Homo sapiens: one gene and its partners. The protein of the gene in region 7 interacts with the protein of the main gene of each other region in a pairwise test. Each region holds a gene or a part of one and is shown on either strand. Other genes may lie near its edges. The genes, in order: STX11, ZNF286A, PSTPIP1, ABI2, CLK3, ZSCAN30 and RNPS1.

Region 1 (3,500 bases), on a different chromosome or scaffold from region 7:
AATGCAGAGGCCTGCTACATGATGCTGTCAGGACTTGACTGAAAGGCGCAAGTTCAGTGTCTCAGGTCAAGTTGCCAGGAAACAGACCCTGAGACTCTGAGATTTCCATACAGGAGGTTTTTATTGGGAAGTGCTCTGGGCACAATACACAGTAGGAGAGAGGGAAACGGGATTGCACAGGGGGAGAGACTGAACTGTGGGGCATGCACAACAGCGGCCTCAACAGGGAGGAGCTTGGAAGCTGGGATTGTTGTTCAGAATTGTTCTGCCTCCTGAGGCAAGAGGCTCAGCATTTGTACCTACATCAACTAATCATTGGATGCAGGCAGCAGCTCCCTTCAGTCCAGGGCAATTTCTGGAACTGGGAGCCTTCAGCAGCCAACCTTCCTAGTACCTGGGGGACTGAGGATCTTGGTCCAGAAGGGGATCTGGATACCACATCATTTACTACATTTGTAGCCAAGAGAGCATTCTCCTCTGCAACAGCCTTGTTTGTGTCTGATGGCCCAGACCATCACCTTGCAGAGTGGAGCCCAGAAAGTTGTCATTTTTTTCCAAGGCCCTTAAGGATTTTAGAATAGTTGACCAGAGAGCAAGAAGACAAAGTAGTCTTAATCCTAAGAAGATTAGGAGCAGAAGAGCCAGGGAGAGTAGGCCGTGGTGAGGGCAGTAGTGGTGTTTAACAAAGAAGGCTAAACTCTGGCACCCAGAGTGGCTAAACTCAGCCACCCAAACAGCTGTGGCTATCCAGACCCAGAACAAAAGCATAACACACACCAGTCCTTGCTGTAATGCTAGGCTTTAACATTGTTAAATGTTGAACAATTTTGTGATATTAGGGTTCCCCCCGCTCTCTCTCTCGCTCTCTCTTTCAAGCCCTTGAAAGTCCTCAAACCAGTCCAGTGTGTAGTCTGTAGATTATAACCTTCAGAATTACCAAAGATATTTCAGTACAAAAAAAAAACAGGGGAAAAACAAAAAAAAAAGAAAAGAGAAATAAAAGTCCAGGGCCCCATTCTAGATCCACTGGAATAGAATCCAGGGGTGGAACCCATGAATTGACATTTTCAACACATTTTCCCCAGAAGATTTTGATACATGCTATAGTTTGAGAACCTTCACCCTAAACTCTTATGCCTTTCGTGGTGACCAACTCTATTGAGATTTTTTCAGATTATCCAGAAGTCATGGGAACCGTGGGACAGCAGAGGAGCACCGGAGCCTTAGTCCCAGCAGGCCTGGTATAGTGAGAGTCATCCCTTGCTTTTCATTTAAATTCTTGATGTGGCCAACAGACAGCACAGCCCAAATTCCTTTGCTGGCTTCTGACCAAGATTGCAAGAGGGAGAGTGGTGTCCCTGGCTTGGCCTTATACTATCTTAGATAGCAGAGTGAGAGATGCCAAATTTTTTGAATAGTTGCAGATGGGGGATGGGAATCAGTGAACTTAGAGGAATCAGTAAACTTTCTAGGAGAATAAGAAGGTTTCAGGATATCTTATGCCAGAGGAAGCTTTGAGGTGCTTTTTTTTAAACTTTAATAATTGTCTAATAAGATCAGAGATAACTTACAGGATAATGTTAAGCATTCATAAATGTAGGATGGATTTCTAGGAGAATAAGAAGGTTTTAGGATATCTTATGCCAGAGGAAGCTTTGAGGTGCTTTCTTAAAACTTTAATAATTGTCTAATGAGATCAGAGATAACTTACAGGAGAATGTTAAGCATTCATAAATGTAGGATGGTATATTATCTGATTCACTGACATTGGCAATGATTTTTTCTTCAAAGGGAAAAGCACTTTTAAGCCTACCAATTTTTACTCCTGAAACACCAAATTGCTGTGTTTCTTACACTTTCCAGGCTTCATGCCTTTGCTGAAGTTGTCTGTGCCTGGGTCCCTTTCCCTTCTCCCTACCAAGCTAACTCCTTTTAAACCTTTTAGGATCAGCTCAGACACCACCTTCCCTGCCCTGTGGCCAGACTGACTTCTCAAAGTATTCCCATAGATCCCTCTATTATGGCATTTATTATCATTATTCTCTCTAACAGCCTGTAAGAGCAAGAACAGTCTTTTTCATTTTTGTGTATGAGAGACCTAGCCTCATCAAAAATGAGTGAAAAAAATAACGATTCTGGTGAGCGTATTTATTCAACAACTATTTATCGAGGCTTTCCTATATGCCGGGTGCTCTGGAGTAAATGGTGCAGACACAACAGGTACAGCTCCTGACCCTATGAAGCTTATGGGCAAGCAGAGAAGATAAGTAACAATTGAATATGTTATCAAACAACTACCAATAAAATATGGTGAGTACCAGAAAAAGCGAAGTGAAATTATAGAGCTGGAAACCCAGCCTAGTCTAAGGTCAGAGGAAGTGTCTCATTTTCCTGAAATATAAGTTATATCAAAATAGAAGTTACGGATTTGGCTTTGGTTACAAGAGACTACTTTTTAACAAAGGAAGATCTTTTGGTTGAGCTAGTTCAAAATTGACTCTGTGTGTGTGTGTGTGTGTGTCCGTCCAGTATGTGGAAAAAGACAGTACAGGAAAATGACGCCTTCATTTAATGAGGTAAAATAGGTAACAAGGAACGGAGAGGGAAGTTTCTGTGTGTCTCATTCAATGCACCATTACTAGAAGTTACTTTGTTAATATTTTAATATGTAATATACAGTGGAAGAAAATAAATGTAAAGCTCTGAAAATCATGAACTTACATCACAGCCTTTTAAAAATTAATCTCAAGGATCTGATTACTACGGCCTAGGAGGGTGCTTGACAGATTTGCTTTTGGGTCTTGTTGGAGACAGTGGGTGAAGTGCATTGCCCCAGAAGTCCATGCCCACTGAGGTTTCTCATCTTTCCAGGTCACTTTTGATGCCCTGGGTGAAGAGGCCACAACCCCAGTGTTGCAATTTGCAACCTCCACCCAGCTTGGTGGCTCATGCTGGGTCCTTTTTCTCCTTTTCTGGCCAGTTCTTGTTTTTTAAAAAAATATTATGATTTTTGAGAGACTCTGTCGCCCAGGCTGGAATGAAATGGCACAATCTCTGCTCACAGTAACCTCCGCCTCCCGGGTTCAAGTGATTCTCCTGCCTCAGCTTCCTAAGTAGCTAGGACTACAGGTGTGCACCACCACACCCAGCTAATTTTTGTATTTTTTTAGTAGAGACGGGGTTTCACTATATTTGGCCAGGCTGGTCTCGAACTCCTGACCTCAGGTGAACCGCCTGCCTCAGCCTACCAAAGTGCTGGGATTACAGGAGTGAGCCACTGTGCCTGGCCTTTTTAAAAATTATTTTTGTACCTCCTTATTTCTCCCCATAAATTGTAAGCTTAGGGTAAGGTTTGAGACTTCCTGATTTTTAACTTTTGAAGCTTTGCAGCTCTTCTGCTGCAATTTATTTACATTTATTATATTCAATAGATAAAGGACCTTAAGTTTAATATATAAGTTAACAGGCAAATCTTGGGTTGAAAAAGTACCAGATTCGTT
Region 2 (2,268 bases), on a different chromosome or scaffold from region 7:
GTAGCTGGGATTACAGCCATGTGTCACCATGCCTGGCTAATTTTGTATTTTTAGTAGAGATGGGGTTTCTCCATGTTGGTCAGGCTGGTCTCGAGCTCCTGACCTCAGGTGATCTGCCTCCCTCAGCCTCCCAAAGTGCTGGGATTACAGGCTTGAACCACCGCACCTGGCCCATTTTGCCTAATTTTAACTGTGCTTTTTATACGAAGTTATTCCCTCCCTTTCACCCCAATTAGCCCTACTGAGTAGTGCCTATACCTGGCCTGGGGACTCAGTACTACTTGTTAGAAACTATCTTCCTCTACTCCTTAACCTTCTTGCAGATACTTGGGTTGCTGACGGTATCTCCCATCCCATCTCTCCAGAAGTTGTGAAGCCAGATGACCAGCTAGAAATGGGATTGGTATCCTGAATGATATGGAGATATTTTTTGGTTGGTCCTTCATTACATCTTAAAATATGCTTTAAAAAAGGAAGAATTTAAAAGCAATTTACAAAAGTTTCTGACAATACATATACAAACATCTTTATTGACAAGTGAGCCAATAAGGGCACATTTAGTTTACAGATAACCAAAAACATTTGAAATGCATAACATTAAAATTTCCAAGATTCATGTTGCAGTACAAACATGTGGCAGGTTAAACATCAGGCATAAAAAGGACAAATACTGAAACGCAAAGGGCCAGAGATCCCAAGTCGCTTAACACTATTTAAAATGTTATTCAACTGCAAACTTCAGCCTCTGGAACCATCCCAGATAGCTACTGGTTAAGTGATATGAAGTAGGAAAAAAGAAGGTTCTGGAAGGTCTCAAGGAGGCTGTGCAGAAAACAGCACCAGATGGAAGCAAGAGCAGAAAGAAGTCACGTCCCATCTTTATGACAAGACACAGAACAAGATGGTCACAGTTCTTCATGGGTAAACAAAAGATGTGGAAGACACAGCCAACCTTAAGTAACTTCTACTGACGGATGCTCTGGCACTTCTCTATGTAGAGAAGGAGAGAGAAAGAGAGCACCAAGCAGGAGTGGGGGACTCTATATTTATTGTCTGCCAGTTCTTTTATATGCATTGTCTTATTTAATCCTTATGACAACCTCATGAGAAGCCAATGATTTATTCCCTTTGTTGAAACCTAATACAGATAAAGAAACTGAGACTCAGAGTAGGGAGTTTTTCCAAGGTCACATGACTGCTTAGTGGGGATGGCAGAATTCAAACTCAACTTTGGAAAGCCCATGTTGGTCTTCTTTCCTTAGTCAAATTTTGGCTCTCAAATGAATTCCTCTTCACTCAAGAATTTGGCAAGTTTCAATAACTTGAATTCTCCTAACAATATATAGTAACATCCTAGAGGTAGGAGTATTTTGATGCAGCATTTCCCATCTCTTTTATTTTTCTGTCCCCAATTATCTCTCAGTACTTTTCCATTCCACCTAGTTTCTCTGACTGGTTTAAACCCTTTATCTGACTTGATGAATGCTCTGGAACAGGGGCCAAGAAAATATTTTCTGTAAAGAGCCAAACAGTAAATATTTTAGGCTTTCAGGGACATACAACCTACTATGGGCTATATCCCCATCAAAGTCATATAATGAAACTTAACTGACGGTATTACGAAATGGGGCCTTTTGGAGGTGATTAGGTCGTGAGGGTGGAGCTCTCATGAATGGGATTAGTGCCCTTATAAGGGGCTGAAGATACCAGAGCTCTCCCCTTCTACCATGTGAAGACACAGTGAAAGGTGCTTTCTATTAACCAAGAAGCAGACCTTCCCTAGACCCTAAATATGTTGACACCTTGATCTTGGACTTCCCAGCCTCCAAAACTGTGAGAAGTAAGTTTCTGTTGCTTATAAGCTGCTCTGTTTGTGATATTAAAGCCCAGAGGCACAACCTCCGCTGCAGCTACTCAGTTCTGACACTGGACACAAAGGCAGTCAAGGACAACATGTAAATGAGTAAGTGTGGCTGAGTTCCAATAAAATTTTCTTCTGAGAAACAGGTGGTGGGCCAGAGTTGGTCCATGAGTCCAGGCCACAGTTTGTCAATTCCTGCTCTAAACCATTAGTACTAAATACTAAGATGATAAAAGAGGTGAGTTCCTTTTCCTGTGTTTTCTTTTCTTTCTTTTTTTTTTTTTTTTTGAGTAATGATACAGTTTAGATCTGTATCCCCACCCAAATCTCATGTTTAATTGTAATCCCCAATGTGGGAGGTGGGGCCTGGTGCAAGGTGACTGGACCACGCAGGTAGTTTCTCATGA
Region 3 (3,500 bases), on a different chromosome or scaffold from region 7:
CATCCATCCATCCATCCATCCATCCATCCATCCACCCACCCACCCACCCACCCATTCACCCATCCACCTGTCCATCCATCCATCCGTCCACCCATCTGTCCATCCATCCATCCACCCACTCATCCATCTACCTACCCATCCACTCATCCACCCATCCACCCACCCATCTACCCATCCATGCATCCACCCACTCACCCATCCCTCCATTTGTCCACCTGTCCACCAGTCCACCCATCCACCCACCCACCTATCCACCCATCCATCCATCCACCCACCCACCCATCTACCCATCCACCCATCCATCCACCCACCCATCTACCCATCCACCCATCCATCCACCCACCCATCTACCCATCCACCCATCCATCCACCCACCCATCCATCCATCCTTCCATCCATCCATTCATCCATCCATCCATCCATCAAGTTGTACCTGAGTGTTTGGTCCTTTGCCTGCCTCACTTTGCCAACCAGTAATGGTGGAGAGGAGTCCCACTGTGGGGTACTGACTGTAGGGCGGTGGAAGGAGCCTGGTTGCTACCCATTGACTTAGCATCCCTGTGCCTCTGTTTCCGTATCTATACAATGGGGATGATAATTCCTGTCTCAGAGGACTGTTGTAAGAAGTAGAGGGGACCAGTGTGACTGGCTTCTTTAAAGGTGCTGGGTAATGGGTCATTGAATCTGCAAGCAAATGATCTGGTCCCCTCCATGGGGCACCTCAGGAAGCAGCCGTCATAAGGCCTTGTCCTCTTGAAGGCCTCACTGAGGCGCTTCTCCAGCCCATCACTCAGCATGTCTGTGAGCAGAGCTGTGTGTAGGCACCAGGTGCCGGGATCCAGTGGGGAACCTGAAAGACCCCCCTCTGCCTCCATGGAGCTCAGCCCTTCCTACCTCAGGTTTTCAGTCCACAGAAGACAAGCAACAGGAAACTAGGTGCTAGCAAACCCACAGTGTCAGCCACACTGGCTGCAGATGTCACTGCTGGTGTGAGGGAGGAGAGCACCCCAGCACCATGCAGCTCCGTGCAGCTACCTTCCAAAGCTGCTGCTACGTCTTGCTTCCCCACCTGTGGCCCATGCTGGAGCTTTCCCAGTCATCTTCAGGTGTAACCCAATCCAGTCCAAGCTAGTATCACAATTTCACTCTCATTCAATTTAAAGCTCCCCAGTTCCCCGACTTTCACTGGAAGCCTCTGATGGGGAAAAGAGAACAGGGTCAGTTTCCTCCCTTGCCATGGGGTACCCACACTGCACTGCCAGCTGCCTCTGGGGTCTCCATGGGGGGGTGGTGGGGCACAGGCCGTGACTGTAAAGGGGAGAAACATCTCATTGCCCTGGTACTGTTGTAACTGGTGACAGTGAATGCACACAGGTCAGCCCTTTCTCTCCCTGGCACCTGGGCAGGTTTTTTGGTGACCCTGCCCCCCTGGAGTCCCTGACCACTCCGTTCCCTACAGCCTTCCACTTCCAACCTCTCCCGTTGCACCCAATAGTCTGCTCCACTCAGCTTCTCCTAGGGGCTCCTCTCTCCCTGTCAGGCTATTCTCATGGACAGAATTACCAGGCAGCTCTTCCTGGCTACCTTCCACGGCCCCCACTTGGTTCCCAGGGAAGATTTTGGTGCCAGTTCTTGGACATAGCAGGTAGGAACTCGGACCAAAACCCAGGTGTCCCCCTCCAAGGTTGGAGGCTTAGCTGTCCTCTGATAGATGCTGTATTCTGGAGTGCCAGGCAAGGGAGCATTTGAAAAAGGCTCTGCTCCCCTTTAAATGGAACCTCTGGTGGAGGAAGGTGTGTAGGGCGAGAGGGGAGGTGATGAGGTGACTCATTTCTTCCAGCCTGGCCCCAGCTGAGGGAAGGTGTTTCTGGTCGGGGAGGTGGCAGGCAGGCGGGGAGGGCTCGGGGAGCTGCTGCTTGCTGAACTGCCCCTGGGTGACAGGCCCTGAGTGTGGGGCTTTGCAGAGAGGCAAAGTAATGGGAAGTTAACAGCCAAGATCGTGGCTTGGGATATCTGGGTTATATCCCAGCTGCACCCGGCAGGTCCCTGGGCAGATTGGGTAACCTCTCTGGGTTACCTTTTCCTCATCCATAAAATGGTAGTCATCACCCCTAGCCCAGTATCTGCCTTGTGGTGAGCCCTGATCTTGAGTCCACTGTTCTCACCTATGCGCACGATTTCACTTGCTTCTCGGGTCACCTCTAGGCGGTGAGAACTATTAGGCCCATTTTCACAGGGAAGGAAACAGGCTGAGAAGGGCCAGGGTCACGGGAGGTGTGAACCCACATCTAGTCAGTCAGACCCTTCCCAGCCTCTCAAACAGGCCCGAGTACCCTCTCTGACCTGTGGCCTACACTAACAGGACTGTGCCCTAGAGGGGCGGGCTGTCAGGGCCCGAAAGGGGGTTAGCCTCCTGCCCCCACTTTCCCAATGAGGAAACCAGGTCCTGAGAAGTAAAGTGGCTTGCTTCAGGCCCTGGTGTCTGTGGTCTCGCCCCTGCAGCCACCAAGAGTTATGGGCGTGAAAAGGGGGAAGTGGCGGTAGTTACAGAGGGTGCTTCTCCACTCAAGCCGTGGGGGTGTGGAGGGCCCTGGCCGGCTCACAGGCCTGGGCCGTGGCTCACACCAACACCCACCAGAGAATGAAGCCAGTAGGCTGTCCCTGACAGAACAGGGCACCCAGGCCTTGGCCACACTGCCTCAAGGCAGAGGCAGGAATATGTTTCCTCCCAAGAGCCTCCTCCTGGAGTTCTGGGATGCCGCCTGAGGCCGATGGCCACACACCATGGACGGCGAGGGCTGGGTCCCACATCTGGCTCAAGTGAGCCTCCCAGAGGAAGAGACTGTGCCCGCTCCCCACCTGGCACCCCTAATCCAGGACGGGTTATCCTGGGTGCCACATGGCTGGGCCGTGACCACTGGCTGTTCATGGGTTACCCAGAGCCGCACTCCTCTGACCCAGCCTGGGCCCCAGGCTAGCCTCTGTGAATCCACAGTAACTGAATTATAGCCCAAAATACAGCTTTGATTTGAGGTGGAGATAATTTGAGTAATCATTTTCAAGAGTTATTTTTTCAAATCATGTTTGGATGTTCCAAAATAGAAAATGGTTCCTGGGCTGTCTACTAAATGGCTGATGTAGGTATATGGCTTTGGGGACAGGTTGACCTGCATTCAGATCCCAAACTCTGCCCTTTACCCATTGAGTGGCTTTGGGCAGTCTCTTTCCCTGTTTGGGCCTCCTGTCCCCATCTTCGCCTCCCGAGATCTGTGTTGTGGTCAGGAAGATAACGCTATGATACCCTTGGTGCAGTGTGTGCCAGGTAGACTTGATAAATAGAGATTTCACAAAGGGCAGGGCCACAGGCAGCATTCGGATGACAGAGGTTGGACAGGATGAGGGGAGATGGAGGTAAGAGGAGTGGGGGACAACTAGGGTAGGTCCCCTGGGGGTGATGCTGATGCTGGGTCTTGGGTGGCAGACCCACATGACTGATTAAG
Region 4 (3,500 bases), on a different chromosome or scaffold from region 7:
TTAATGCTTTTTTAAAGTCTCAATTTTTCAAACAAGAAATATGTGCTTGTTATAAAATATTACTGTGTGTTAGTGTAAATAATAAGTGGAAGATTACTTCTCCCTGTTCATTCTCTGGAGATTTATTAATATTTCTAGTATGTGCCAGGCATAGTGGCTCATGCCTATAATCCCAGCACTTTGGGAGACTGAGGCAGGAGCATTGTTTGAGGTCAGGAGTTCAAGACCATCCTGGGCAACACAGTGACATCCCATCTCTACAAAAAATAAAATTAGCTGGGCATGGTGGTACATGCCTGTAGTCCTAGCTACTCAGGAGGCTGAGGTAAGAGGATGCTTGAGCCTAGGAGTTCAAGACTACAGTATGCTATGATTGTCCCATTGCACTCCAGCCTCTGTGACAGAGTGAGAACCTGTTGCAAAAAAATGTATATTTATAGTATGCAGATGTGAAATAGAAGCTATAAGCTTGTAATTCTGTTATGGCTGCTCAGGTTTACACTCTTATAGTTTCATTTCTGAATAAGTTAAGTACATTTCTAAAAACTGAGGAGAATAAAAACAATGTCTTGAGGATTGTGTTATCTGATGAACCTTTTATTGATCTGACGAAGACCCATTTTATAAAAAAAGTGTCATATTTTATTTTTTGAAGCATACTTGATGGTATGAAATGGTATTTCTAGCCCATACTTTTAATGATTTAGAATGACTCACTAAACTTTATTCAAGGCCAGTACATTGGCTTACTCCTGTAATCCCAGCACTTTGGGAGGCCAAGGTGGGTGGATCACTTGAGCTTAGGAGTTCAAGACCTGCCTGGGCAACATGGAAAAACCCCAACTCTACAGACAGTAGAGAAATTAGGCCAGCATGGTGGAACACGCCTGTAGTCCCAGCTCCTTAGGAAGCTCAGGCGGGAGAATCATTTCAGCCTGAGAGGTCGAGGATGCAGTGAGCCATGATCGGGCCAGTCCACTCCAGCCTGGGCGACAGAGTGAGATACTGTCTCATAAAAATAAAATTTAATCCAAATGTGATTAATTTCCATTTCTCTAAAGTTAAAAATTAAGTGAATTCCAATATCATCACTAATATGCAAGCTTAACTTTTCTGTTACAGTTTTCCCAAGCAGTTGAAGAGGAAAGCTATTCTCATAATTAGCCTAACATGCGTAGAAAAGTTTAGAGATTATTTTTTTTCTTTTTCTTTTTCTTTTCTTTTCTTTTTTTTTTTTAAGATGGAGTCTCGCTCTGTTGCCCAGGCTGGAGTGCAGTGGCACAATCTCGGCTCATTGCAAGCTCTGCCTCCTGGGTTCACGCCATTCTCCTGCCTCAGCCCCCCAAGTAGCTGGGACTACAGGCACCCGCCACCATGCCCGGCTAATTTTTGTATTTTTAGTAGAGACGGGGTTTCACCGTGTTAGCCAGGATGGTCTCGATCTCCGGACTTTGTGATCCGCCCACCTTGGCCTCCCAAAGTGCTGGGATTATAGGCGTGAGCCACCATGCCTGGCTGAGATTGTTTTTTTCTTGAATACTTAAAATTGTAAGATTACTACCATGGTTAGTTTTTTATTTGATGTTCCATTTATACATTCGTTAGCTCTGGAACATATAGATCCTGTTGTTTTTAAGGTCTCTTGGTTGTAGAGAAATAAGAGGCTTTGAATTTGTTTCAGGCTTACCTCATACTTGAGGCAGTTTAGAAGGATAAATGATCAGTGTTCAGATTTCTTAAAGCAGTATTTTATAATGTCATGATGATTATCTTTTCACTGTTACTACCAGGTTCTTTTAGAAAGGGGAAATTGAAGTAGGACATTGAAGTGGGACTGGGGAGGAGTTAGCAAAAAATGTGTCTGTTGATTGCTGCTTGAGCCAGGAATTGGTGGTAAGAGATGTGAACCATTTTAGTGAAGTGATTTTTCAAACTCTTTTGACTGCGACACACAGGAAAAAATTTTTTTTACGTTGTATTCAGCACATAATTCATGTATATATTTATATATATAATAAACAGACTTTTCAAGAAACAGTATTTTACCTTACTATGTGTACATGCAGTCTGATGTTTCTGTTCTATTTGATTTGAAATAATTGCTGCTTACATACCACTAAATTGCAGCTTGCAGTTTAAAAAATTTTGCTTTAGTGTACTAATTACCTGTGTATGTGGAGAAATTCACCCTCTGTTAGCAAATAGAAGATTGTAATTACAATACATTCTTACTCGTATGTCTTATGTGAGCATTTAATAAATATAAATAAATTAATGAAATATTTTACAGGCATTTTGTCATGATAAAATATAAGCAGCTTTGCCCAAGCAACTTGGTCTTTTGGGGTCAAAAAATGGCTTTTTTGTTTTTTGACACAGGGTCTTGCTCTGTCACCCAGGCTAGAGTGCAGTGGTGCATTCATGGCTCACTGCAGCTTTGACCTCCTGGACTCAAGCAGTTCTCTTATTTCAGCCTCTCAGTTAGCTGGGATTACAGGCATGTGCTGTCATACCCAGCTACTTTTTGTAGAGACGGGGTTTCGCCATGTTGCCCAGGCTGGTCATGAACTCCTGGGATCAAGCAATCTGCCCACCTTGGCCTCCCAAAGTGCTTGGATTACGGGCCTGAGCCACTGTGCCTGGCTTTATTTTTAACATTATATTTCAGCCCTCTTTCTTTTTAAATAAAAAGATGTTTAAACATGAATAGAAATTATACTAATAGGTCATTAGAAATGTAACTAGATTAATTTCGGGGGCTTTCTTAATCACTATATTAGTCTAAATCTTAATGGAGAGGGAAAAATTAGCATGCTTTAACCCAGGGGTTGGCAAACCTTTTCTGTAAAGGAGCCAGCTAATATATACTTCAGTTTTTGTGGGCCATACCATCTCTGTTGTGGCTCATCTCTGCCATTACAGTGTAAAGCCTAGACAGATAAGCAAGTGAGCGGCATGGCTGTATTCCAATAAAACTTTACTTATGGAAAAGCAAATTTGAATTTTATATAATTTTCACGTGAAGGTTTTTTTTGGTTGTTCTTTTCTCCAAACATTAAAAAATGTAAACACCACTCTTAGCTTGTGGGCTGTAAAAATCAGATGATGGGCCAGATTTGGCCTGTGGGCCATGGTTTACCAGCCCTTGCTTTAACCTAAAAATGGAGAAAATCAGTAGTCCAGAAGAATAAAAATTTAGCAAGCATAGTTTAGAATATGAGTAGCAATATTAAATCTCTAGGCATATATATTTTGATTTTTGTGGATATTAGAACTATACATTTTTGTGTTGTTTTTTACATTATATTTTGCAGACAGTTGATATTCATAAAGAGAAAGTTGCAAGAAGAGAAATTGGTATTTTGACTACCAATAAAAACACTTCAAGGACACATAAGATTATTGCTCCAGCCAACCTTGAACGACCAGTTCGTTATATTAGAAAACCTATTGACTATACAATTCTAGATGATATTGGACATGGAGTAAAGGTAGGTATA
Region 5 (2,433 bases), on a different chromosome or scaffold from region 7:
TGGCCTAGCATAAGACTCCTCTGAGTGTTCCAGCTACCCTGACCTCTGCCTTCCCTTTAGCATCTACATCCTTAAAGGGTCTGAATCTCACATGATGATTAGTGGGAGGAGGAAGACACCTGTCTTCTCATCCATGTGGGGCTTCCCACCCCAGTGGCCTGCAGCCTATCACAGTAGCAGTACTCAGGGTAGGGGACCAATGCAGGGTGGCTGTACCTGGAAGAGTGTGAAGCCCCGGTAGTACTCAAAGAGAATGCAGCCAATGCTCCAGACGTCACAGGGCTGTGCCCAGCCCAGCTCTGCAAGCCAAGATGGGGAGAGGCTGTGAGATCCGGCCTTATGCTTCCAGCCTGGAAGTCACAAGGCAGCCACCACACCGGCTGGCAGGACTCTTGCCCAAATCCCAGTACGAGGCCCTCTCTCAGTAAGGCTGACAGATAAAGCCAGGTCAGTCACCTGTGTCTCATGACACTGGCCCCTTGGTCTGAGAAACTCTGCCTGCCCTGGGTGGCAGAGAATGACAGGCATGCCACTGCCTCTGCTCATACCCTCCCAACAACAGTCCAGTATGACAAGGTCACAGGCCATACAGTCACTCACCAAGGATCACCTCAGGCGGGCGATAGTGACGGGTGGCCACAATGGTGGTGTGGTGCTCATGGTCAAATGTGGCACTGCCAAAGTCAGCCACTCGGATGCTGGTGTTCTTCACTGACTTCTCCTCACAGCTCTGAAAGGCAAGGCAGGCCTGCCAGGTCAGGAGTCTGCACCAGCGGGTAACCCACCCCTGAAACAGGGCCTCACCCTTACCCCCACCAATACCTTGTGCTCATTGTAGAGGGTTTCAAACTCAGAATTCACAAACAGGATGTTCTCTGGTTTCAAGTCTGTATGGGTCAGCTGATTCTCATGCAGAACTAAGGTAGCAGGGAAAGAAGGGGAAGTAGGCACTGAGAAGCTGGCTCTCCTGCCAGCTCTAGGCCAGACCCCTCTTCCAATGCCAGCAACTGCCAGAGGTCCTCACACCCCCACCTCAGCAGGGAGCTGGACTACAGCCTGCCTCTGTGCTGGCCTCCCTCTCAAGGGTTCTCTGTACTTGAGGCCTTGGAGGGTTCTGATACTTTAGCAGGGGGGTAGGAAAGAAATTTGCCATTCGAAAAACCTCCCTCCACCTCTCCTCTGCAGAGACCAGGCCTCCTCACCTGTCTCTCAGCAGAGCTACAGCAACAGCCTCGAGGTGGTTCCCTCTTCCCTGCACCAGCTACATAATTTGCAGGGCCCTTTGCAAAATGAAAATGCAGGTCCCCTGTTCAAGTTACTAAGAATATTAAGGTGGTGGCAAAAGGACATTAAATCAAGCACAGGGTCCTGTGCGACTGAGTGCACAGGTCGCATACCCAGGAAGACAGCCCCGCCTCTCATTGCTAGTCATAAGCAGGCAAGCCTTTCCCCTCCAGCCCCTTCTGACAGTGGCTTCTTGCTAGTAGTCACTTTTCAGCTCAAGGATCCCATCTGGCACTCAAGACCCTCACAACTATGTGGCCCACCACTCCCCAGTGGCAGTCTACTCCACTGGAGCCAATTCTCAGCCCGTTAACAGGCTCCAGGCCTCACCAAGCTGTTCCCCTTGCTTGGAATCCTTGTCCCTGTCCCATCTTGCAGATCCTGTGGGAGGAGGAAGACACCTGTCTTCTCATCCATGTGGGGCTTCCCACCCCAGTGGCCTGCAGCCTATCACAGTAGCAGTGCTCAGGGTAGGGGAGCGATGCGGGGTGACCTTGAGCGATTCTAGCTCAACGCCTACCAACTTCACCAAGGAGCCTTTCTGTACTGCTGCAACCATTGCAAATCCTACTGCGCTGAGCCCTGGCACTGCCAAATAATGCTTTTCCAGGCTGGCAGGGAGATGACAAGTCAGGGTTAGACCGAGGGTCTCCATGTGGGCAGGACCTGTGGTGCTATCTGTCAGGTCAGGCTTCTACCTTTTTATCCCATGCATGAAGCAGGGAGGCAGGGTTGGTGGTTAGGCCAATTCCAGAGCAGTTCGTTTCTGTTTTCTTCCTGAGTGCCTGGGGGTAGAGAGGCTGGTCCAGGAGGTCCCTGGAGGGAGCCCTAGCCTTTCCATCCTCACACTGAGATTCCCACCCAAAGACAGGCCTTTCCGCCAAAGGGGATCTGGTGTCCCTCAGGCCCAGGAGAATGGTTAGTAACGTGCTGGAATGAATGGGGACAACAAGTAACCAGATGACTTGGCTGCAGGCATGTGGCTGCCCATGCTTCTTTTGAGGGTGGACACTTACATCTAAGGGCGTGGCAGAGCTGGTAGGCCATGTGCCGGACATGTGGTAGGGGGTAAGGCTGGAAGTTATTCTCCTTCAGGAACTCAAAGGTGTTCTTGCCCAGGAGCTCAAAGGCGATGCACATGTGACCGTG
Region 6 (3,500 bases), on a different chromosome or scaffold from region 7:
TGGCTTCCCGTTTTCCCCATTCCTTACCAGAAATTAAACACAGATGACATCACCTCTAAAATTCATATTGTCCTTGGATTTTAGATAGAAATTTAAATTATTCATTGTTTCATTCAAAAAGAAAACATTTATGAAAAATATACTTGCATACAATAGAGGCATAAAAATTAAAAGTACCAAATAGGTTAAAGTCAGAGACCCAACAACCTAATGAGAAATTTTCTGAAAGTAATAAATAGGTCAAATTATTAAGAGCATCAATTATAGGGTATAAAGTGGCAATATAATTGTGTAGGGACAAAATTAAGGGCAATGAAAATTAGAAAAGCAATGTAACTTATGGGATTTAAATACGTCTTCAAATTCTGTAACTATATGAAGTCAAATTATGAGACTAGAGAAAAATTTTGTCCTCAGATGTATACATCAGGAAGACATCAAGATTTTTATTTGTTCAACTATACATTTATTATTATATTTAAAAAGTTGGAATAAATAGCTAACTAGAGTAATTCTTAGAAAAGACAAATAGAGATTACAAGTAGAGACTGGGCACGGTGGCTCACACCTGTAATCCCAGCACTTTTGGAGGCTGAGGCAGGCAGATCGCTTGAGGCCAGGGGAGTTCAAAACCAACTTGGCCAACATGGCAAAACCCCATCTCTACTAAAAGTATAAAAAATTAGCCAGGCATGGTGGTGCACGCCTGTAATACCAGCTACTCGGGAGGATGAGGCACGAGAATCACTTGAACCAGGGACGTGGAGGTTGCAGTGAACCAAGATCACACCACTGCATGACAGAACAAGACTGTCTCAAAAAGAAAAAAAAAAAGATTACAATAAGAAATGGTCACTTGATTATTCAGAAATACTTGCATAGAGAGAACCCAATTACTATCTCCCAAGAATGAAAACTAATTTGTAATCAGGCTCAAGTCTGGAGGCTGGAGGGTGGGGTACAGATTTATAAGAGGCTCTTTGGAGGAGAAATAAGGCACAGGTATCTCTGTTAGAAGAGCTCTTCTGTTTTTGTTGTTGTTGTTGTTGTTTGTTTGTTTTTGAAACAGAGTCTTGCTCTGTCACTCAGGCTGGAGTTCAGTGGTACAATTATCAGCCACTGCAGCCTTGAAATCCTGGACTCAAGGGATCCTCCCACCTCAGTCTCCCCAGTAACTAAGAGTACAGGTGCGCATCATTGCATCCAGTTAATTAAAAAATTTTTTTTGTAGACACGGGGTCTTGCCATGTTGCCCAGACTGGTCTTGAACTCCTGGTCTCAAGCAATCCTCCTGCCTCAGCCTCCCAAAGTGATGGAACTACAGGCACGAGCCACCACACCCAGCTAGCTTTTCTCTTTAACACACCTCCTGCTTTTCTTACTTGTTCTCTGGGGTGGCTCCTCAGTGAGTTCTGCCAGCTCAGCAGTTCAGTGAGCAATTCCATCCTGTTTAGTTTAAAATCCTTTTAACTAGGGATGTGGCCTTCAATTGCATATTGACGAGTATGCTTTTAGCCTTAATGCTATGTCAGTGATGCTCCACTGCCCACCCAGTTCCCCTTTACCAATATGATGCCTCCTTCCCTCAGCCACTGTGAATGTTGGCTCCTCCAATGATGTGAATGTCTGTGTCTCCCCAAAATTCATATGTTGAAGTCCTAACCCCCAAGGTGATGGTATTAGGAAGTGCGGACCTTTGGAAGGTGACTAGGTCATGAGGGCTTAGTGATCTTATAAAATAGGCCCTATGGTGCTCATTTGCCCCTTCCACCACGTGAGGACACAGTGAAAAGGTGCCATCCATGAGAAAGTGGGACCTTACCAAATACAAAATCTGCTAGCACCTTGAACTTCTCAGCCTCCAGAACTGTGAGAAGTAAATCCGTGTTGTTTACAAGCCACTCAGTTGATGGTATTTTGTTATAGCAGTCCTAACCGATTAAGACAGCTCCTAACTATACAGAGATGCCTCCTTCTGTGGAGAATTACCCAGGCTGATGAGAGCCACTTGGCCCAGGAAGTAACTTCCACCTTCATTGCCCCATCTCTGCGTCAAGAAGAGACAACTCTGCAGTGCAATTATGCTTCAGCGGCCCATGAAATGCTCCAAGGATTAGACCAAGCCTAGACTGTAACTGAGACCACATCATTGCTTGCTCTTTTCCCTTCCTAATCCTGCTTCTCTCTCTCCATTACAGATTTTTCCTGAAGAACACATCGTCAATAAATCACCTGCACCCAAATCTCCATCTCAGGCGCTACTTCTGGCAAGGCATATCATGAGGCTAGTGAAGCACCTACAAGAAACTTATAACTCAAGGTTGTAAAAATGGCATGGTGACTCTTACAATCATATCACAGTGGGCCTCTCCAACAATTTAAACCTCATGACCTAGGTGAAAGCTGTGAAAGGATCCACATTAATTCTTCAGAGGCAGGGCTAAGACTTTCAAGACTGAAAAGAGACTAGCATAAGGAGACTTAACAGGAACCCAGTCAAGGCCATTCATGGCCATGGGACCACGCATAAATGGAGAACGAGTAAATTTTGCTAAGTCCAAGGACATTGGAGAGATAGAGTCACTATTACTGATATGGTGACTGAGTCAACAACATACTGCCACTATGAAGTAATAAGAAAATAAAAAGTTAAAAAATGTAACAGATAACAGTTGGAGGGTGAATATATTTTAAATCAATCAGATTCTCATTAGAGTATTTTATTTTGTCTTGATCCCCAAACTTCAGATGAATGTGGAGAAACTGAAGCATGTCCAGAGAAAAGTGGCAAGATATCCAAACAGACAGAACACAGATGGGATCAGAGGGAGTGAGAGGCTTAGTTAAAACAAGGTCAGGAGGCTGGGCACGGTGGCTCATGCCTGTAATTCCAGCACTTTGGGAGGCCGAGGCGGGTGGATAACAAGGTCAGGAGTTTGAGAACAGCCTGGCCAATATGGTGAAACCCCATCTCTACTAAAAATACAAAAATTAGCCAGGCGTGGTGGCGGGTGCCTGTAGTCCCAGCTACTCGGGAGGCTGAGGCAGGAGAATCACTTGAACCCAGGAGTTGGAGGTTGTAGTGAGCCAAGATCACACCACTGCACTCTAGCTTGGGCGACAGAGCCAGACTCCATCTCAAAAAAAAAAAAAAAAAAAAAAAAAAAAAAAAGGTCAAAGTGCAGTGTACTCACTGCATTCAAGTATAGATTGTGTTTTATGAGGACTCTGTAAACTAAAGAAAGTGGATTATGAATAAATTAAAGTTGGGAGTATTTCATATGGACATAAGGAAGAATTTTAATATAGTATGTTTACTAGGGTTTCCACAACAAAATACCACAGAATGGGTGGTAAACAACAGAAATCTCTTTTCTCACAATTCTAGAGACTAGAAGTCCAAGATCAATGTGTCAGCAGGTTTGGTTTCTTCTCTCTCCTTGGCTTGCAGATGATGGCCACCTTCTTTTCTTGTTGTTGTTGAGATAGTCTCACTCTGT
Region 7 (3,500 bases):
AAGCCAAGGCCCTTATACAAAGGCTGGGATATAAGAAAAGCCCACCAAAAGTTTAGCTTAGGCCTTTCCTGGGCCTTAAAACATAAAATAACGAAGAATACGTCAGGACCCATTTAGGATTAAGCCAGTTTTATTGGGAAGAAAACTCCCCAAACTGCTGTGATTTAGCAGAAGGCAAAGCAAGGGTAATTACCCCAGCACTCACAGCCATTTAAATTAAGTCAATTTACTGAGGCTCCAGAGGAAGGTCTTCAAGACTCAATCCTTAGTTAATAGATTAAAAGTCAGTAACTTATGTCTTTACATAAATGTACACATATGTATAGACATATAGCTTAAAAAATATATAAGCTCTGAAAAACTTTGTAATTTTAAGTTGGTCTGGCAATAATTTCCAGGCCTTTTCCCTGCAACTGGTTGCAGAAATAAAAACTCCACCTACTCAGTTAATGTGCATCTTGTTATTGGGCCATGAGAAATAGCAGCCCAAACCTCAGTTTGGTCCAGGAACTGCACCCCAGCCTGGGCAACAAGTGTGAAACTCTGTCTCAAACAAACAAAAAGAAGTGCAGCCCAGTTGGAAATCAGTTTGAAAGCCCCTCGCGGCGGCGGGTCTCTGAGAGGTCAGGGTTATGTGGCAGGGTCACCCACCTCCATCCATGTGCTTCAGCGCCTTCTCGGCTTCATCTGGATTCTCAAACTCTACGTACGCATAGCCTTTGGACAGATGGGGATGCATCCTTTCCACGGGCATGTCAATCATTTTAATTTTCCCATAGGTGGAAAATATCTCCATGATGTGATCCTAGAGGGAAAGAAGGGTCACGCCAACGCCCAGCTACCAGTCAGTCACGTCAGACGCAGAGAGCTCAGCACATCATGACTAAAACCTCGGCAGGGTAAAACATTCCATCTGATGAGTACCAGTGTTGTTCTGGGATAAATCTCCCAGACACATGTATTAATGGTCCACCAAGAGGAACGAATCAATGCTGTACTCAAACCACATGCCACCACCCCAGTCCTCCAAAAGGCTACATTCTAAGTTCATCTGCAGGCACAGGCCTGCTTGTCCACACCCCACTGCCCACAGGAGAGATCCATGATCCTCACCTTTGTCACATTCCGGGTGAGTCTCCCAATGTGCACTTTGGTGGGCTTAGGAGATGGGCTCCGCCTTTTCCTCTCCTTTTCATCTCTTTTAGGTGGTTTGGATCTGATTGAGAAAACAAAACACCAGAAACAATTTCTGTCAAGTCAAAATGTACTAGACGCCTTTCGAGTAAGCTCTTATCTGCTTGTGTGACAGTTTTCATAAGGAAGACTTTCCTGCTAGTTCACATACATTATTCCTGTCTCAGAAATCCTATTAACACAGAAAGACTCCTTTTGGGTCCCTTTTATAACCTCGATGGTAAATCTGTAGCCCCGAGCTTGTAAACTTTAGCTCCCAGGCGCAGGGCACTCACTTGGAGCGGGAGCGCCTCCTGTTGTCGTGTCTGCGCCGAGAAGGACTTGGAGAGCCAGAAGAGCTGCTAGAGCTGGAGCTGCGGGAGGTGCTGGAGCTTCCTGAGCGGCTGGATGCTGAGGAAGAGCTGGAGCCACTGCTTGAGCCAGTGCTGGTGCTGGAGCCTGAGCTGGAAGTCGAGCTGGACCGAGACCTGAGGGCAAGATGAGGGGTCACAACCACCACACACCAAGTCTCACAGTACAGACGCCTCCTCCAATTCTGTTGTGCTCCCCCCAGGAGAAACCTGCTGTTCGGGTGCCTCCAGGCCTCACTGCTTTCAGCAGTGGGGAAAACATCACCCCCCAATCCCCCAGCAAGTCAGAGCCCTAGGTGTCACATTGTGTGTGGGACAGGACAGAGGTGATGGGCTGCCTTCTACCCATACAGAAGCCTTTCCTGCTGGGAGGCAAAGGACTCTGGCAAAAGTCACAACTGCCAACTCAGGCTGGGAAGGCAGCTGCTGGCTGATGCTGACCCAGGCTAGGTTGATTTTTTCTTTTGAGACAGGGTCTGCCACCCAAGCTGGAGTGCAGTGGCATGATCTCCGCACACTGCAGCTTCAACCCCCTGGAATCAAGCCATCCTCCTGACTCAGCCTCCCGAGTAGCTGGGAGTACAGGCGTGTACCACCACACCCGGCTAGTTTTGTTTATTTTCCTCAAACTCCTGGGCTCAAGCCATCCTCTTGCCTCAGCCCTCCCAAGTAGCTGGGACTACAGATGCATGCCACCACGCTCAGCTAATTTTACAAATTACTCTTTTTTTTTTTTTTTTGTAGAGACGAGCTCTTGTTTTGTTGCCCATGCTGGTCTTGAACTCCAGGCCCCAAGCAATCCTCCTGCCTCGGCCTCCCAAAGTGCTGGGATTATAGGCATGAGCCACCACTGCACCTAGCCAGTCTGCCATAAATTAGGGTCTCTACTAACAATCAGAGGATGTGTTTTCTTTGTAAATAATCAAGAAAACCGAGCCATCTGTGGGGAGTGGGGGTGTAGCTGTGGCACAGGTCCTCTCCAGGCTCCAGGCCAGCCCGCCCCACCTGGTACTGCTGCTACCACTGGAAGCGCTGCGCCTCTTTCGGGTTTTGTCCCGGCCGCGATCCTTCTCACTCGACTCCTTGGTGGCCCCTTTATCTTTTGAGCGATCCTTGGACTTCTCATCTGAGCGGTCTTTGCGTTTGGTAGGTGAAGGAGCCCTGGATGGTGAGGAAGAGTGTGAGATTGCGTGCTCCTCTGACCAAACCCAAACAGCACAACCCAAAACGGGGGATCAGCATCAGCAGGGCCACAGAGACCCGAGGTGACCACAGAGCAAAGTGGTCTGTGGCTCAGAACACTCACTGTAGAATGCAGAACATTCTCAACTTTCCCCTTTCTGCGGGTCCCTAGCAGTAAGCACCCCCAAGTAGCACTAGAAAAATCTTACAGAAGGATTACCTAGTGCTGGACTTTTTATTATTTTCTTTGACTCCTAGCAAGCTCTTCTTTTTCACTCCTGATAAATCCATTCTCCCCTTCTGAGGTGTTCAAAGCAGCAATGGCGGCCTCACTTATCTGAACTCTCACTTCTAACTTGATTCTGAGAAACGATCCCTAATCGATTGCAATTTACGCCAAAGAGCAGCCTAATAACAAGATAAAAGGGTTTAAAGAGTGAACGAATTGGCAAGGCAACAAGTCTACTTTGCAGTCAAAAGCTGAGCACACAAAAAGGCAGCAAGGGAGCACGGTAAGCAATAAGTGTCCACACAGTCAGGAACACATAGGGACAGTCCCCATGTGCTCCTGGAGGCGTCTCTACCCCGCAGAGGAGGCACAGGTACAACTGTCGCCCCAGCGTATCTTTTTCTTAAAAAATGGAGATGGTGGAGACCATCACTGTTATTTTACAGGCTGAACAATTCAGTTTTCACCCACAAGTTTGATGAGCCCCTGCAGTCCTTTCAAAATGCCACAGCACCACATTCACATGCAGAACAGAGAAAAACCTA

What was found.
Region 1: the proteins of RNPS1 (region 7) and STX11 interact in binary tests that used the Homo sapiens proteins (3 or more experiments, as listed by UniProt).
Region 2: the proteins of RNPS1 (region 7) and ZNF286A interact in binary tests that used the Homo sapiens proteins (3 or more experiments, as listed by UniProt).
Region 3: the proteins of RNPS1 (region 7) and PSTPIP1 interact in binary tests that used the Homo sapiens proteins (3 or more experiments, as listed by UniProt).
Region 4: the proteins of RNPS1 (region 7) and ABI2 interact in binary tests that used the Homo sapiens proteins (3 or more experiments, as listed by UniProt).
Region 5: the proteins of RNPS1 (region 7) and CLK3 interact in binary tests that used the Homo sapiens proteins (3 or more experiments, as listed by UniProt).
Region 6: the proteins of RNPS1 (region 7) and ZSCAN30 interact in binary tests that used the Homo sapiens proteins (3 or more experiments, as listed by UniProt).

What each region holds. Positions count from the first base shown.
Region 1 is NC_000006.12:144,157,017-144,160,516, forward strand, and holds part of STX11 (syntaxin-11), read left to right. Parts: intron 1-3,500. UniProt on the Homo sapiens protein: SNARE that acts to regulate protein transport between late endosomes and the trans-Golgi network.
Region 2 is NC_000017.11:15,719,020-15,721,287, reverse strand, and holds the end of ZNF286A (zinc finger protein 286A), read right to left. Parts: 3' UTR 501-2,268; downstream 1-500. UniProt on the Homo sapiens protein: May be involved in transcriptional regulation.
Region 3 is NC_000015.10:77,012,126-77,015,625, forward strand, and holds part of PSTPIP1 (proline-serine-threonine phosphatase-interacting protein 1), read left to right. Parts: intron 1-3,500. UniProt on the Homo sapiens protein: Involved in regulation of the actin cytoskeleton. May regulate WAS actin-bundling activity. Bridges the interaction between ABL1 and PTPN18 leading to ABL1 dephosphorylation.
Region 4 is NC_000002.12:203,376,894-203,380,393, forward strand, and holds part of ABI2 (abl interactor 2), read left to right. Parts: intron 1-3,314; coding exon 3,315-3,491; intron 3,492-3,500. UniProt on the Homo sapiens protein: Regulator of actin cytoskeleton dynamics underlying cell motility and adhesion. Functions as a component of the WAVE complex, which activates actin nucleating machinery Arp2/3 to drive lamellipodia formation.
Region 5 is NC_000015.10:74,625,836-74,628,268, reverse strand, and holds part of CLK3 (dual specificity protein kinase CLK3), read right to left. Parts: coding exon 2,301-2,433; intron 918-2,300; coding exon 823-917; intron 731-822; coding exon 601-730; intron 300-600; coding exon 217-299; intron 1-216. UniProt on the Homo sapiens protein: Dual specificity kinase acting on both serine/threonine and tyrosine-containing substrates. Phosphorylates serine- and arginine-rich (SR) proteins of the spliceosomal complex.
Region 6 is NC_000018.10:35,255,730-35,259,229, forward strand, and holds part of ZSCAN30 (zinc finger and SCAN domain-containing protein 30), read right to left. Parts: exon of another isoform or gene 2,210-3,500; coding exon of another isoform or gene 2,199-2,209; intron 1-2,198. UniProt on the Homo sapiens protein: May be involved in transcriptional regulation.
Region 7 is NC_000016.10:2,261,627-2,265,126, forward strand, and holds part of RNPS1 (RNA-binding protein with serine-rich domain 1), read right to left. Parts: intron 3,135-3,500; 5' UTR 3,018-3,134; coding exon 2,947-3,017; intron 2,706-2,946; coding exon 2,550-2,705; intron 1,662-2,549; coding exon 1,470-1,661; intron 1,217-1,469; coding exon 1,114-1,216; intron 806-1,113; coding exon 652-805; intron 1-651. UniProt on the Homo sapiens protein: Part of pre- and post-splicing multiprotein mRNP complexes. Auxiliary component of the splicing-dependent multiprotein exon junction complex (EJC) deposited at splice junction on mRNAs.